Linked DNA regions of Homo sapiens: all the other regions are reported to be linked to region 1. Evidence: microRNA targets listed by miRTarBase, many of them from high-throughput screens and not tested one by one. Region 1 holds a microRNA gene; each other region holds the end of a gene's coding sequence.
The links. The annotated mature microRNA hsa-miR-629-3p reads GUUCUCCCAACGUAAGCCCAGC and lies in region 1 at 3,249-3,270, opposite strand. An mRNA with a match to its seed (bases 2 to 7 or 8) in the 3' UTR can be bound and repressed. Matches are read on the target gene's strand: a 7mer-m8 pairs with bases 2 to 8, a 7mer-A1 pairs with bases 2 to 7 and ends in A, and an 8mer does both.

Region 1 (5,063 bases):
AGTCTCTTCGCAATCTCTGTCTGCAAAGGCAAGGAGACCACATGAAGCTCAGGCAAATAAATCAAGTCACTGAAATGTCATAGGCAAGTGGAAATGCAAACTCCCCCCAGACCACAGCCCCTCTCCACGGGGCTCCATCCTTTCTGCCCTCAGTCAGCCTCCTACCAGGAGGCTCTAGCTAAATCCACAGCATGAAGAAATCTCTTTCAACTCCCTTGCAGCCAGGCTGCCTACATTTTAGGGAGCTCCAATTTCCATCAGAGGTAGTCTACATGTCTGGTTCAGAATATAGTTTGCATCCTCTGGATGGAATCCCTAATTAAAGCAAAACGAAATAAAAATCACCCCCAACAACCCAGCAAAACCCACTGTAAGAGTGAAACACAGTTTAGTGAGAGAGGAATTGCTCTGCCCACTGGTGCCCAGTGCCAATAGGACATGAGCTCTCAGATAAATGGGACTAAGCTGATAAGCGGTCCTATGTGGCAAAGGGTTCCCTGGGACTAGCCTCTCCCTCACCAAGATCAATCCCTCCCCCACATATATGCTACCAGGCTAAAATCCTACCATTAAGCCTTCTTTCTTTTTTTTTCTTTCCCATTAAGACAGGGTCTCACTGTCACCCAGGCTGGTGTACAGTGGTATGATTTTGGCTCACTGCAGCCTCGACTTCCTGGGCTCAGGTGATTCTCCTGCCTCAGCCTCCCAAATATCTGTGACTATAGGTGCACTGCCACTCCCAGCTAATTTTTGTATTTTTGTAGAGACTGGGTTTCGCCACGTTGTCCAGGCTGGTTTCAAACTCCTGGGCTCAAGTGATCTGCCCACCTTGGCCTCCCAAAGGGCTGGGACTACAGACAGGAGCCACCATGCCCAGCCAACACTTCATTTTTTAGGATATAGCATTGCCTTGTCTAAGAAGCTGCTCAGAGATGTAATTCATTAGATCCCTAATCCCTCACAGAAGTCAATCTTAGAAAGGTAGATCAATTCTCTGCCTCATCTCCCAACACCCTAGAAAAGACTGCATTTAGAAAGTCAACAGTTTCCACCAGTATCCTATGTAAACTTTAGATCTCAGATCAAGAGTGGTGCTATACGGGTTAACTGAGTCCAGATAGAAAGGCCTAGAACCACTGACAGACGACTCTCAGAATTGCTTTTCTTATCTCATTCTGAATCCTGAGCCCGCCAGGACTGAGGTCCCAAAGCTGGCTTCAAAGCTTTCATCAGCACATAGCAATCTTTCAGAGACAAAACCATGACAACAGCCTTTAAAAATCTGTGATCATCTGCATGTCAAATGATTCTGGATGAGAAATCCTTGTGCACTTAAAATAAAAACAATCTGAAGGCGCATAAATAGACCCTGGACCTCGGGAGAATTCCTTGGGCTAACACCCTCCACCCCCTCCACCCTTGGCCACTAAAGAGGACGCCTCTGGTTTGTGGAAAGGCAGGCCATCAACTAAAGAGCCTTATGGGTTTTTGCAGGCCTGTGTCCTGGGCTGCCAGCCACGGTGGCAGGGCTCGCCAACCTACGGAGCCTGTCCGCTACAGTGGGGGTTCCTGGCAGGGAGAGGATCAGGAATCACTGCTGTCAGCTTTCTGCCTAGAACACTCTAGCTCCTCAGGAACAGAGTCAGTGTTTCCCAGCCAGCACCACTGTTGGCATTTGGGGAGAGACAATTCCTGTTATAAAGGACTGTCGCTCATATCCCAGGCCAACTGTGTCAACAATGGCCCCCACTTCCAAACTGCCCAGCTCAGACCCACTGGGACTCCACATTGACACATGTGTGGGGCACTCTAGCCAGGACACCATACATCAGGGTTTCTCAAACACCATGCTATTGACATCTGAGGTCAGATAATTCACTGCTGTGTGGAGCCCGTTCTGTGCACTGCAGGGCTTTTAAAAGCATCCCTGGCCTCTCCACCCACTAGACACCCGTCATTCATACTCTAAGGAACCCAGGAGGATTACTAAATAATCATTATATAAATTGTTAATCTAGTTAAGTGGGAAGAGCTCTCCCAAACAGGGTCCTTCCTCACTCTGCTTATTTTTTCCTCGCCTAAATCAACTGATAGTAGGAATGGGGAATGAAGCAAAAAAGTCCGGGTTGGATAGGGCAGGAGTTCTAGAAACAAGCATAGGCTGCAGCTCACTCCAAACCGGCAGAGTAACAAGTTCTCTCACCTTTGAGTTCATGCACCAAATAAGAATAGAAAGATATGTAAAAAACAAAAAGCAAACAAAAATAAACAAAAAAAACCAACCTTACTGTTTAGGAAGCTCACAGGTCCAAGGCCTGTTATCTTAAACAACAATAGAGCAGTGTCTGGCACACAGTAGCTGCTCCGTAAATGTTTGGCCCAAAGAATAGTATCACTGGCATCTCTGCATTTATTGAGACTTCATATTGCAGTGACCCCTTGCTGTGGATCTGGGCCTGCCCCAGCATGGGCAGCATCTGTGGGAGGGGCCGTGGTGGATGGAGTGTTGACATACACTTGGTGGCCAGTGGCCCAAGCCCTTCACCAACGGGGTGGGGTGGCACCTCCAAGCCAGGCCAATCGCAAGCCACCTAGATGGGTCCCTGGCCACTACTCCTCCCCACAGCCAGGAAGGCAGGGGCAAGGTCAGAACATCCCCAGTCATTCTGGCCTCCTCAGCAACTATTAACTCTCACAGTCTCTGGGAGAGCAGGGAGGCAGGGTGATTATAAAAGGGTTCTGGCTATGGCCTCCTTCCACTGGTAAACAGGCCAAGGGTCAGGGTCTCGGGAGTTGACAAAAAAGAAACGTAGCTGACCTTGCCCTTCCCCACACCCTTCAGCAAACACGTGGCCAAAGGCTTCCCACAGACAGGATCTTCCCATAGGGCTGGTCTGGAGCCCAGCTCACTCTGGTTATGAGGACAACGGATCTCCCAGGATTTATGTAGCCATCCGGGCCATCAGGTGACCACAGCTGGGTGGCTCAGGGCAAGTCCTCTCTCATTCTCACCCCTCCACCCTCCTAAAGTAGTTCCTGCCTCCCAACACCACAAACAAGCATCAACTGAGGGCTATCGCAACAATGCCACACAGATGCAGAACCTTCCACAAGCCTGGGGTAGTGGCATTCAGGCTGTCTTTCCTGAGGCCCATGTTCGACGAAGAGAGGCCTCTCTGCAAGGCAGGAAGGACTTTGGCACGTCACCAGACAGGACTGTGTAGGGTTGAGGCAGGCAGAGGGGAGGGGCTGGGCTTACGTTGGGAGAACCTCCTGGTTCACCGTAAAAGTTCTCCCAACGTAAACCCAGCCCCTCCCCTGGGAAAGGGACATGAAGCAAGCACATCCCATCCCTCCCAGCTGTCACTGTGCCATCATCTGCTAGTACCCTCTTGGGGTCTCCCCACAAAGTGGAAGCAGGGATTGGGCCTCCCCCATCTCTACAAAGGCTGCCCAACCCTGAGAATGGGCTGCGTGCACTCTGCAGAGTCAAAGCATGAACAGGAAAGCTGTTCGCTCAACATTTTAAAGAAATGTTTATTTTTTGGAGGGTGGCGCTTGGGGGAGGGGAAGTTCCTGGAAATGGAAAGCTGGCTTAACAGAAGCCCTCCTAACAACAGTAATGACCGCTGATATCACCCACCCAACTCGCCATGTGTGCATCCACAATAACCCCGCGGAGAAGGCGCTTGTCAACATCTCCACTTTTCAGATGGGGAAACTGATGCCCAGCCATTAAGTGATTTCACTAAATGACTTCCTACCAAGAAGCCAAATTTTGACATTTCAAGAGAGCTTAGAGAAATATTTTTGAAAGAAAAACCACCATTAAGGTTAATAATTGACAGCACTTCTGATTAGAACAGCTGTTAAAACAGCATTGGATCCAACTCAAACAAGCTCTAAACATCAGTTCCAAAAAAGGAAAAAAAAAAAAAAAAATCAAGTGTGACTTCAACAATTGGGACAGGTCACAAATCACAAACTGGAACTCGATCGTATGTTGGAAAACTCCTTTTGGCAACTTGGCGCAATCCGTTATCGATAAGGCGGCTGTAGTTTCCAGAGGCCGACCTCCATCCTTCCCTCCATCTCGGTCCCACAAAGCCACTGCTTTTGAGCCAGGTCTTCAGAAGCGAATCTGAGAGGTGGTGGGAGGTGGGAAGATGGCTCCCTTTGGAAAGCACTTTGGAAAAGGTGTTCAGGGAGGCTGGTGCCGCCTTTGAAAGTTTCTTTTCAAGTATGGTTCAAAGCAGGCGCTTTGTTGGTGGAAAAACATTGTTCCTCAGAAGGAACTAATCTACTAGATACAGACAGAGAAGCAGTTCAGAGAAATGGGGACAGAGGTCCTGCTACATCCGGAATCTGCACTACCAACTGGGCGCTGGGAGTAACATCTGCCCTGCATCTCTGTCAAGATTGTTAGGCAAATAAATGACAGAAAACAAGATAGTGGGGGGCAAGTGTAATTTCCCAAACAGCAATCTGTTCCATGCGCCTTAGTAGCTCCCATTTGCATGATCATCTCCTCATTAAAGCAGGACCTCTGAACATCTTGCTGTAAACCGAGGGTACTTGAGCATTCTAAAAGTCTATTTCTCTAACCACAGTCTAGTATTCACGTTTGCTGCTACTTCAGACTATCCTTGGCCCTTGACCCAAGACACTAAATTAAGGGAAACGGAGCCTGCTCTTGATCTGTACCCCCCAGCAACCTCCTGCTCCTGGGCTTGCAGCACCCAGCCAGTCCTTGCCCTTATTTTTAATTTAGGTGACTGTGTCCAACACACCGTCGAGAGCTACTTCCACCAGAGAGTCTGTCTGCTAGTTAGTTTTAAACTGCCCTGTCGTGTGTACCTGTGGACTCTGAATGCACAATTCCTTTTAACCTCAGCCAAATAAAGGCAAGGAGAAGAGAAAACTGCCCCTTCAAAGAGTGTGTTATGCTCCAACGCCACGCAGAGATGAGCTGGCTTCTACCTCCAATTCTGCCTCCATTTAGTTGTGTGGCTTTGGGCAAATCACTTCCCTTCTCTAGGCATTAATTTCGTTGTCTGCAAAAT
Region 2 (5,062 bases), not on the chromosome of region 1:
AGCAGGAAGATCTGAGTTTGGAGGATATACACAGGCCTGTTTTGGGAGAACCAGAAATTCACCAGACTCCAGATTGGGAAATAGTCTTTGAGGACAATCCAGGTAGACTTAATGAAAGAAGATTTGGTACTAATATTTCTCAAGTGAATAGTTTTGTGAACCTTCGGGAAACTACACCCGTCCACCCCCTGTTAGGGAGGCATCATGACTGTTCTGTGTGTGGAAAGAGCTTCACTTGTAACTCCCACCTTGTTAGACACCTGAGGACTCACACAGGAGAGAAACCCTATAAATGTATGGAATGTGGAAAAAGTTACACACGAAGCTCACATCTTGCCAGGCACCAAAAGGTTCACAAGATGAACGCGCCTTACAAATATCCCCTAAACCGGAAGAATTTGGAAGAGACCTCCCCTGTGACACAGGCTGAGAGAACTCCATCAGTGGAGAAACCCTATAGATGTGATGATTGCGGAAAGCACTTCCGCTGGACTTCAGACCTTGTCAGACATCAGAGGACACATACTGGAGAAAAACCCTTCTTTTGTACTATTTGTGGCAAAAGCTTCAGCCAGAAATCTGTGTTAACAACACACCAAAGAATCCACCTGGGAGGCAAACCCTACTTGTGTGGAGAGTGTGGTGAGGACTTCAGTGAACACAGGCGGTACCTGGCGCACCGGAAGACGCACGCTGCTGAGGAACTCTACCTCTGCAGCGAGTGCGGGCGCTGCTTCACCCACAGCGCAGCGTTCGCCAAGCACTTGAGAGGACACGCCTCAGTGAGGCCCTGCCGATGCAACGAATGTGGGAAGAGCTTCAGTCGCAGGGACCACCTCGTCAGGCATCAGAGAACACACACTGGGGAGAAACCATTCACGTGCCCTACCTGTGGAAAAAGCTTCAGCAGAGGATATCACTTAATTAGGCATCAGAGGACCCACTCAGAAAAGACCTCCTAGCTAGGTCCCCATGTGAGGAGATCTGCTTTCAGCCCTCACCTAAGGGAGGTGAGGAAGAGGAAAAGCCCTCTTGTCAGCCTGGGAAGACCTTTTCGAGGGAGTCTCCCTGACCTGCTCAGATCTGACATTACCTCTTCCTGCAACTAAACACGAGCCTGGGCAGAACCTCTCAGCCTTCCTCTACGCCTTGAGGGGATGTTTCATCCAAAGTACAACCTGAATTGAGGCTTCTCCTTCACTGGAGTGCACCTGCCTCTACCTCATGGGTATAAAGTAGGAGAACTAAGAGACTTAAGAGGTCGTGGTTCCTATATCGTCCAAAAAATAGGCTGTTACATATCCTAAAGACTGCTCAACAGCTTCAAGTTGAAAGTGGCCAAGGACAGCCCCTTAGGTTTGGGAAGGGACGAGCCTGAAGGATTCTGTCTTTACTGGGGTCAAATCTTAAAGCACACAGCTCTGGACTCAAGACAGGAGGTTTGCGTCCTGATGGCTTTGCCACACATTCACAGGATAACTGCATAGATCCCTCGCTGTCTGATTCACTTCTTACCATGCACTTTCCTTTGATGCTGAGGAGAAATGGAAGTGGGCGAAAAATCTCAAGGCTGCTTCATGTGGACCTTGTCAAGCTGCTCCCTCCCCCAGCGTCAAATTGTTATCAGGTGCCAAACACTGCTAGAAAGGAGGGCCTAGTCAGAAGCCTCTTTCCATACGAGTTTTGGTTTTGTTTTTAATATTTTTTTCTATTAAAATACTCATGCATTTAACCTTCCCGTTATTCAACCAGTCTCTTGGTTGCATCCCTAGCACTTCTACTACAAGTGAGATGGTAGTGTTTGAGTGCTTATTGAGTAAAGCATAATTCGGTCATAATGAAATCGTTCACATTCCCTCATATGCACAAGCCCACCAACCCCTTCACACCCCCCTTCACAGGGGTCGTATGAGTAAGGGGATTTGGAAACTGTCAACTTACAAAGGCACTATAACAATTACAGAATCATGATTGCCATGGGCCACTTTATTTACATGAAGACAACTGGAGAACGACTAAGACCAAATTATGGAAAATAAGAAAAAGCTGTTGCTGGCAAGACCATCAAGACTGTTCTGACACCCTGTCCCCATCATCCCTGACTGAGTACTCTGACATCACGGAAAGTGTTGAACCTGGGACCCTGAGGAATTCACCAGGAGTAAATGGCTTTCATGTATTTGTGTTGTTTGCTTTTTCTTACGTGATTTTATGTTCATAGAGCTAGAAAGTAGCATCTCATGATGGCCCAACAATCTCTGTTGCCAGTTAAAGGTTCCTTGGAGATGAGGCTGAATAATTATGAACCTCACCTTCTCTGATTGTGGGAGTGGCAAGAACTGGGGAGACGTCCTCCATAAGTGGAGCACAGGGTATGGGGTTAAAGCATGACAGGGAGAGTCTTCTGTGCCTGGTTTCTTCTCCTCTATCTCATAATGCATTATGGGCCCGAGGAATAGGGGAGGGTTAATAAGACTCCAACCCTAATGGCCCAACAGGGAAATTCTCATTTTGGTCGATGATATTCTGATGGACTGGTTTGGTCTTAATACCAGTCAACCGTTGTCCTTCTGGAAATATACATATATGAAATAAATAAAGGTAACACTTGCAGCCAAGTTCCCTGGTTTCTGGGACTTCCCATCTTACCCATTCCTTTTCCAGGGCTTCAGTGTCCTGATACTTCTGAGGGTGGTTCATACTCAAATAGATCTGGGAGTACAGAGTATTTTTCCTTGAGGAAAGGAAGGGTTGGGATGATTAGCAGAGTCCGGTGAAACATATGCACTCTGAGATAAGATCCAAGCCTGGAGTTTGCAGAAGATACTGTCCTAATAAGCAGGCATTTCTAAACCAAGTATCTAAGCCTAAGCACAGCTTGTCCTGGGTGAAATGTCTGCCACAAAAGATAGTTTCTCCTAGCTCAGACTTAACCATTTATAAAGGTTGGTAAAATACTGGCAGTGACAACAAATTGACTTTTTAATTTTCTTATTTGCATTATTCCAATAAATGAAAATCTGTCAGAGTTCTACATGAGGGAAAGCTTGTGAGGCTGGGCCGGTTTGTTGGAACATCAAATAGTCCTTAATTACTGATCTCCCTGCAGAGTTTCATATGCTGACACTAAATCTCTGGTCCCTTTTGTAAATTACTGAATTTTCTGAGGTTCTGGGAGGGACATGTTGTCTCCCAAATCTGAACAAACACAACCACAGTGTGCAGCGGCAGGAAAGAAGTAGTGCAGCTGAGCGTGAGCAGGGAGGTTGGAGCACAGGGTGTGTATTCGGAGGGGTCCCCTCTAGTATCTTGTGAGCAGTAGAATTCTAGCATCCTTGAATACCATACTAAGTTTCTGAGGGAGAAAACGGTGGGATTTTAAAGATATTATTTGGAGGAAGTTAATACGCTACTTAATTAACAGAAGTGGCAGGTGGTTGGAAATGTGCTAAAGAGGTATGACACATTAAAAATGATAATATAAGGATGTTTGACCAGATAATTTAGGAATAACCAAGGAATATTTAACCTCTTCACCACAAAGTCCGAGGAGAAATAAATGCCCAAGAGATCAAGCCAAAATACATTTTTATTATCTGGGACTTAGGCCTCATATTCCGGAGCAGAATCCGGTAAACTCAGATGAACTCCATGGAGAATTTCATAAATCAGATTAACATCAAGGTACTAAAATCAAAACCCACTAAGAAACCTGTTGCCCCCTTCAAAGCACAACTGAAGTAATGGATCTAATAGAAGATACATTGTTTGCACTGAGCAGTAGAGTAGTAGAGGAGAAAAGCCCAGAGATGGCACAGACAAGTTGTTCCAGTCCCCTTCAGTCAAGGCCTCTGGACCACCACCCTGCCACAGGCGAAAAATGGGATATTTAATAAATAAAAAATTTTGATTCACCAGACTGGCTGAAAGGACAGTAATCCAAATGAGAGTTAACGGCTCCATAGTAGTTTTCTAGAATGAAAGCTGAACTGAGAAATAGTAACTGATGACATGTTGAGCAGGTTAATAATTTGGTACCCTTCCACACCAGTATTTGTTTGTTTGTTTGTTTTGAGATGGAGTCTCGCTCTGTCGCCCAGGCTGGAGTGCAGTGGCGTGATCTCGGCTCACTGCAAGCTCCGCCTCCCGGGTTCACGCCATTCTCCTGCCTCAGCCTCCCCAGGAAGCTGGGACTACAGGCACCCACCACCACGCCCGGCTGATTTTCTGTAATTTTGGTAGAGACGGGGTTTCACCATGTTAGCCAGGATGGTCTCGATCTCCTGACCTTGTGATCCGCCTGCCTTGGCCTCCCAAAGTGCTGGGATTGCAAGCGTGAGCCACCGCACCTGGCCCCACACCAGTATTTTTAAAAATAGTTTGTTTTACCTCTAGCGTCTTCCCTCAGCTGACCTAAATAGTCCAGCCACAATAGCTGAGAGAAATATACCTACAATTATTTCCATCTCCTTATATTTCTAGTGATGTTGGCTGACTAACCCACTAATCTAGTTTATGGGAGAGGGAAAGACTGAAAGAGCCACAAAGTGGATGGCCAACCCACGTGATTACTAACCTTTATTGTGGCAAAGTAACTGATACAATGTTTCAAATGTAAGCACATCTCCTTGGAATAAGTGGAATAACTTAATTCATCCTTGCGGAAGTCCTGAGGATCAAGCAAGGAGGAGCCCAGCTTTCTTTAGACACCACCTTTTTTATCTTTAATAACAAAAAGGAACAAAGTGATTGTCAGACCAGCACAAAGATACCTCTTAATGTGCAATTTCTATTCTCTTTAGTGTGTGTGAGTGCACGCATGCACGTGTGTACACCGAGGTTTCAGGTAGAAGGAGGAATGCAATTCAAATTCTAAAAAAGGAATCAGTCAGCACAAACTAGTTTATTTGGCAATTCATAAAGATAGGGACTCTTCAGAGGAGGTTGAGAGCATTGTAGGGTTATGTAAAGACTTCCAGAAGCTGTAAAGACTTCCAGAAGCAAGAAGATTCAACCATCTAAAACGCCATGCAGGAAAATAGCCAAACCTTCTCCATTTAAG
Region 3 (5,062 bases), not on the chromosome of region 1:
TCTAATTGCCTAGTCGTTTTTTTAACACATATACATGCAATGTATCTGGATGAATAGAAGGCTGAATTGAAGCTTTCTTTATATTTAAGAGGTAAAAAGAAATATTAATACTTTTAAAATATACTAACAACCAAAAAGTGTTCAGAATTTTGCTATAATAATAATTTGTATTAAAATAGTACCTAGAAAAATTCAGTCTATGGAATAGGTAAAATTTTAAAATTTTAATTTGCTCTCAGAGTTCTGTCTGATAAAATAATTGAACTATAATTGGCATGATGAATATTCCCAGGTTTTACTTCAGTATATAAATTTAACTCTCAGCCACATGGGCTTTCCAGACTTTTCAATACATATGATGTTGCAGGAATTGCAATATTTGCAAACATGTGCCACAACAGTGTTCTTGGTGATGTTTCTAAAACAGTTTTTATTCTATTAATGTTAAATTTTCTAACATAAACATTTAATTGATTAATGTAAAATTTTAGGAAGGAACATCTTTAATTTTCAATATGAGATGGTTGCAACCTTTAAAGTAGTACATATTTGATTTTTTTTAAAAGGCAATATTTTTTTTTCTAGGAAAACTATTCATTATGGTTATTTAACTGCATATGTTTTTTAAATTTTTCCCTCTTGGAACAACATGTACTGGGGCCTATCAAAGGGTGGAGGGTGGGAGGAGGGAGAGGAACAGGAAAAATAACTAATGGGTACTAGGCTTAATACCTGGGTGATGAAATAATCTGTATAATAAATCCCCATGACACAAAAGTTTACCTGTGTAACAAACCTGCATATGTACCCCTAAACTTAAATTCTTCCCTCTTTTTGTCTTGGGCACAAGTTTTTGGGATATGGAAAAGTTTATTGTATCCCTTTTGAATTTTCTTCTAAGATGAACTTTTTAAATAAAAGATATTACTGCTTTTATATTTAATCTGTCAACATTTATTGGGACATTTTATGTAGTAGGCAGTATATAAAAAGCACTGGAGATGATAAGATATTTCAGATATTGTTACTGGCCACAGGAGGTTTCAGAGCTATGATTGAGTGATTGATAGAAACATACAAAGGGAGTCATGGGAAATATGGGGAGTTGTTCACTCAGCCTGGGGGCAGAGAAGGGGAGTGGTCAGGAAACCTGAGTTGGACTGACAGACAGGCAATCCAATAAGTAAACATGCAGGGAAGTGGGAGTCTCAATAAGGCAATAGAATTTAGTCCATATGGCTTGAACAAAGTGTATACATGGGAAAGTGTAAACATGGAAATGTAATCTAAGGCCTTGTGCGCTTAAGGAGGAACAAGAAGGCTGTGAGAAACCTAGGAAAAACTTTTTGGCAAAGTTGTAACAGTTAGTTAGACTTGGGTTTTGGAAGATACCCAGCAGTATGGAAAATGGGGCTTATGATAAGGTGATCTATGTTAAAATCTAAAAGTTTTGGTTTGTATTAAAATATGCTTTTTAAATGTACCATAATGAAAAAGAGGTAATTTTAGCTTCCCTTTCCTATCAATCAGTTAAAATGACAAATGCTAAAACTAAATCGAAGCTGCTTTGCTTTCAGAAGAGCAGAATGAACAACAGTCTTGTGACACTTAAGTGGTAATCCAATATGTTAGTTTAGTTTAGCAAAATCTGCACATTTCATCTAATGATAGGAACTTTAACAAAGCAGTTTTCTAAGTTGTAAATTTGGGACACATTGATAACCACTTAAAACTGTATGTAAATCTAATGATTTAACAACTAACTTATGATCTACTTTTTCTGCCACTCATAATTAGTAGTAGCTTGCATTTGGCATTTATCTCTTTAGAACTTCTTTTATATATGATTTTATTTAATGCTTACATCATCCTGATGCCATCTCTTAGGTGCCAAGAAGATAGTGATGATTCTTACAGGTGAGAAAACAAACATGACTATTTTATAATTAAATCAGTAACACTGCCAGAACCACTACTAAACTGTACTGATTGATTGAATAGATGTTGTGTATTCTAAAGCATATCATGTTACTTTTAAAAAATAGGATATTTAACTTGATGTGAGTTGAAATAAGGATTTCTCCCATTCCATTTTCATGTTAGTATTTTAGGTGTGAAATAATATATATTTACCACATTTGCTGAAACAAAAGTTAAGTGTACTTAAATCAGGTAACTTTTTGTCAAGCAAAATAAGACCACCAATGCATAGTACAAAATTTTTAATATACATGCAACAAGTATAGTACGCATCAAGGCAACAGAATACACATGGAAATATTGGCGTATAATTCAGCATTCTTTTGGAGGCAAGAGGGAGGGTGAACAATAAACACTACCACCTAAAATTAAAGATTGAGACATACATGGTTTCCTCATGCAAACAGTAACAAACTACCTTTAGTGTGAAACGAACTCTGTAGAAACCTGATTTTATAACAGCAGATGAATTTTATACCAAGATCTCCAAGAAAGGAGGAAAAGTCATGATCCTCAGATGTAATGTTTAAATCTGCATTTAGCAGCATGTGAAGATGCACAAATTACACATTAGACAAATCTGAAAAATTTTACGATTATGGAATCTTGAATTTCCTTCTACATTATAAAAATGTATGTAAAACCATTGTTTAATTACTAAAGGATAATAAATGTTGGTTGAGAGTGGACCATGAATGATAAAGCATTTAAACATTCTGATAGTTCATAGGAAAGCAGCAATAGTGCTCAAGTCCAGCCTAAAATTTTCAAATTTCTCTTTATCCATTTCCTCACTCCCTTCTCCCAAAGTTTCCATTGTCCTCATATTATACCTACCTTCCATCCCCCATGCTGATGAAAACCTGCTTTGGATACTTCACTCATAATCAGGTATGTAGAATTGAGAAATTGAGAACAAAAAATGTATCATTTCTCAAGAATATTTGCATTTCTACAAGTATTGAAGCCTTAAGCTTAAAGGAATAAAGCTCTGAATATGTTCTGGCACATCTAAGATAACTTATTTTAAGGGCTTCCAGGCCTTTGTCCCTGAAGTGACACTGTTTGACTGTCTTACATAAAAGACTTGCCTTGTTACTACTTATTATCTTAAATTCCAAATTATGAGACTAAGCTCTAAATATTGCAGAAAACCACCACACTCCTACATTTCTAACACAAAGAATGAATGTGGTAACCTCAGCTCTTTTCTCAATAATAATAAACAAAAAAACCATATGAAGTCCTCAGTAAGTACTGTGGCCTCATCATGTAAACAATGTATAAAATTTCTTTGGCACAGCTAATCATGTTTTCCTCATATTACTTACTATAGAAAATACACGCCATACATTTTCAGTATGGTGGGATTTTTAGGGATTAATGTAGCTGTTTCAAAAATTGCAAAAAAAAAAAAGTACAGATTACAACTTTAAAAAAAAAAAAACTAATTTTACCTGTGTATAAGTGTGGGGATGTTTTAACATTAAAATGTTTTAAAATGAGACTCTGGTGTGATTAATGATAGAGGCTATAAAACACACATGACACACTTCATTGTTGCACAAACAGGAAAAAGAACCAGCACTGAATATCAGACATATATTAAGTAAATATGATAACTATCCTACTGATCCTTGTTTAAAAGCCTCTCAAATCCTTAACTGAACTTGAACTCTTTCCTGGCAAAACAATTTTTCAACGTTTGTTCTACATTTTGAAATGTTTCTAGTTTTTGAGGCATACTTGATCATACTTTTAAATTGATAATCTTTTAAGAAAATCTTGGAAAACAGTTTATTCATTTTGCCTAAATGGCATAAAATACTGTAAAATATTTTCCTTGTGGCACTAACAAATTAAGTCAGTAACTACCAAAACAGGCATGTTCCTATGGAATTTATAAAATGTTAAGTGGAATGCTGAATTGATACCAAATGGTAAATATTAAAGAAAAACTGAATAAGCCACTGTGAAAATGCAGCTGAGAACTTTCCCGTTATTAAAAACAAGGCATTTAAAGCATAGAACTTAGGAAGACATTAATGAAAAAATGAAATTAACTTTTTTTTTTTTTTTTTTTGAAAATCTGAAAGAATGAAAAAATACTTAGCTTAAGTCTCTGGAGTCTCTGGAATAAAACCTTGAAGTCAGTCTCTGGCCACTAAGGTGTATTTAAATATATAAAAATCAGCTGAACAATATGTACAATTTGCTATGAATGATTTGGCGGATCTTTGAAAGTTTTTTTTTTTTTAAAGCCTATTCCATTTTGAACTTTCTCAATGACAAATGTAAGAATTTTAAAAATGAAAAATGGCAGGATCATTATGTTTTTCACTCAAAATCTCTTATCTGGAGGGGATTCTCTCCAAGCAATAGAATTTCAGACATGTACCAGAACAATATAAAATTTCAAAGGTCTTCCCAGCAGTCAAACATGTAAATTAAACATTTACAACATAAAAAGTTTTGGCTTTTACACAAAAATTTTCAGGATGGAGTTAGGCCTGGACTTGTCATCTCTGTTGTAGGACTTGCAAGGTAGTCATTAGATTTTAAGCTTGTTAGAGACTTGTAACTTGCCACTGACGTTAGAGATCCACAGAGGCCAAGTAATGAGGGAGTATCTTCCTTACCTGAAAATTAGAATTAAATAGCAAATAATTAATTGCCCTTCAAGAATGATACAAATAAGATCCTAAAACCATTAGAAATTGGAAGAATCAATACTGTGAAAATGACCATACTGCCCAAAGAAACCTACAGAACAAATTGCATGATTGACTGCTATCCCCATTAAAGTACCAACATCATTTTTCACAGAATTAGAAAAAAAATCCTACAGTTCATATGGAACCAAAAAGCACAAATACCAAAGCAATCTTAATAAAAAAGAACAAAGCTAGAAGCATCACATCAACTAACTTCAAGCTGTAACCAAAATAGAAAGGTGCTGTTATACAGACACAAAGACCAATGGAACAGAATAGAGAACCCAGAAATAAAGCTGCACATGTATAGCCATCTGATGTTTGACAAAGTTGACAAAAGTAAGCAATGGGAAAAAGACTCTCTATTC

Region 2: miRTarBase lists ZNF202 as a target of hsa-miR-629-3p. Seed matches in the 3' UTR shown: 7mer-A1 at 1,539-1,545.
Region 3: the mRNA of RUNDC3B is a reported target of hsa-miR-629-3p. Seed matches in the 3' UTR shown: 7mer-m8 at 2,780-2,786.

Annotation. Positions count from the first base shown.
Region 1 is chr15:70,076,139-70,081,201 of GRCh38, forward strand. MIR629 (microRNA 629) reads right to left here and starts at 3,330; the gene lies at 3,234-3,330. TLE3 (TLE family member 3, transcriptional corepressor) reads right to left here. Exons shown (of 20, transcript NM_001105192.3): 5 at 1-20. RefSeq lists enhancers at 2,181-2,787, 2,788-3,394.
Region 2 is chr11:123,721,897-123,726,958 of GRCh38, reverse strand. ZNF202 (zinc finger protein 202) reads left to right here. Exons shown (of 9, transcript NM_003455.4): 9 at 1-3,045. The coding sequence ends at 962. Among named protein-coding and RNA genes, the nearest start is that of ZNF202, 17 kb to the left of the region's middle.
Region 3 is chr7:87,829,442-87,834,503 of GRCh38, reverse strand. It overlaps RUNDC3B (RUN domain containing 3B), which reads right to left. Exons shown (of 11, transcript NM_001134405.2): 11 at 2,208-4,619. The coding sequence ends at 4,474. It overlaps SLC25A40 (solute carrier family 25 member 40), which reads left to right. Exons shown (of 12, transcript NM_018843.4): 12 at 1-936. Among named protein-coding and RNA genes, the nearest start is that of SLC25A40, 44 kb to the left of the region's middle.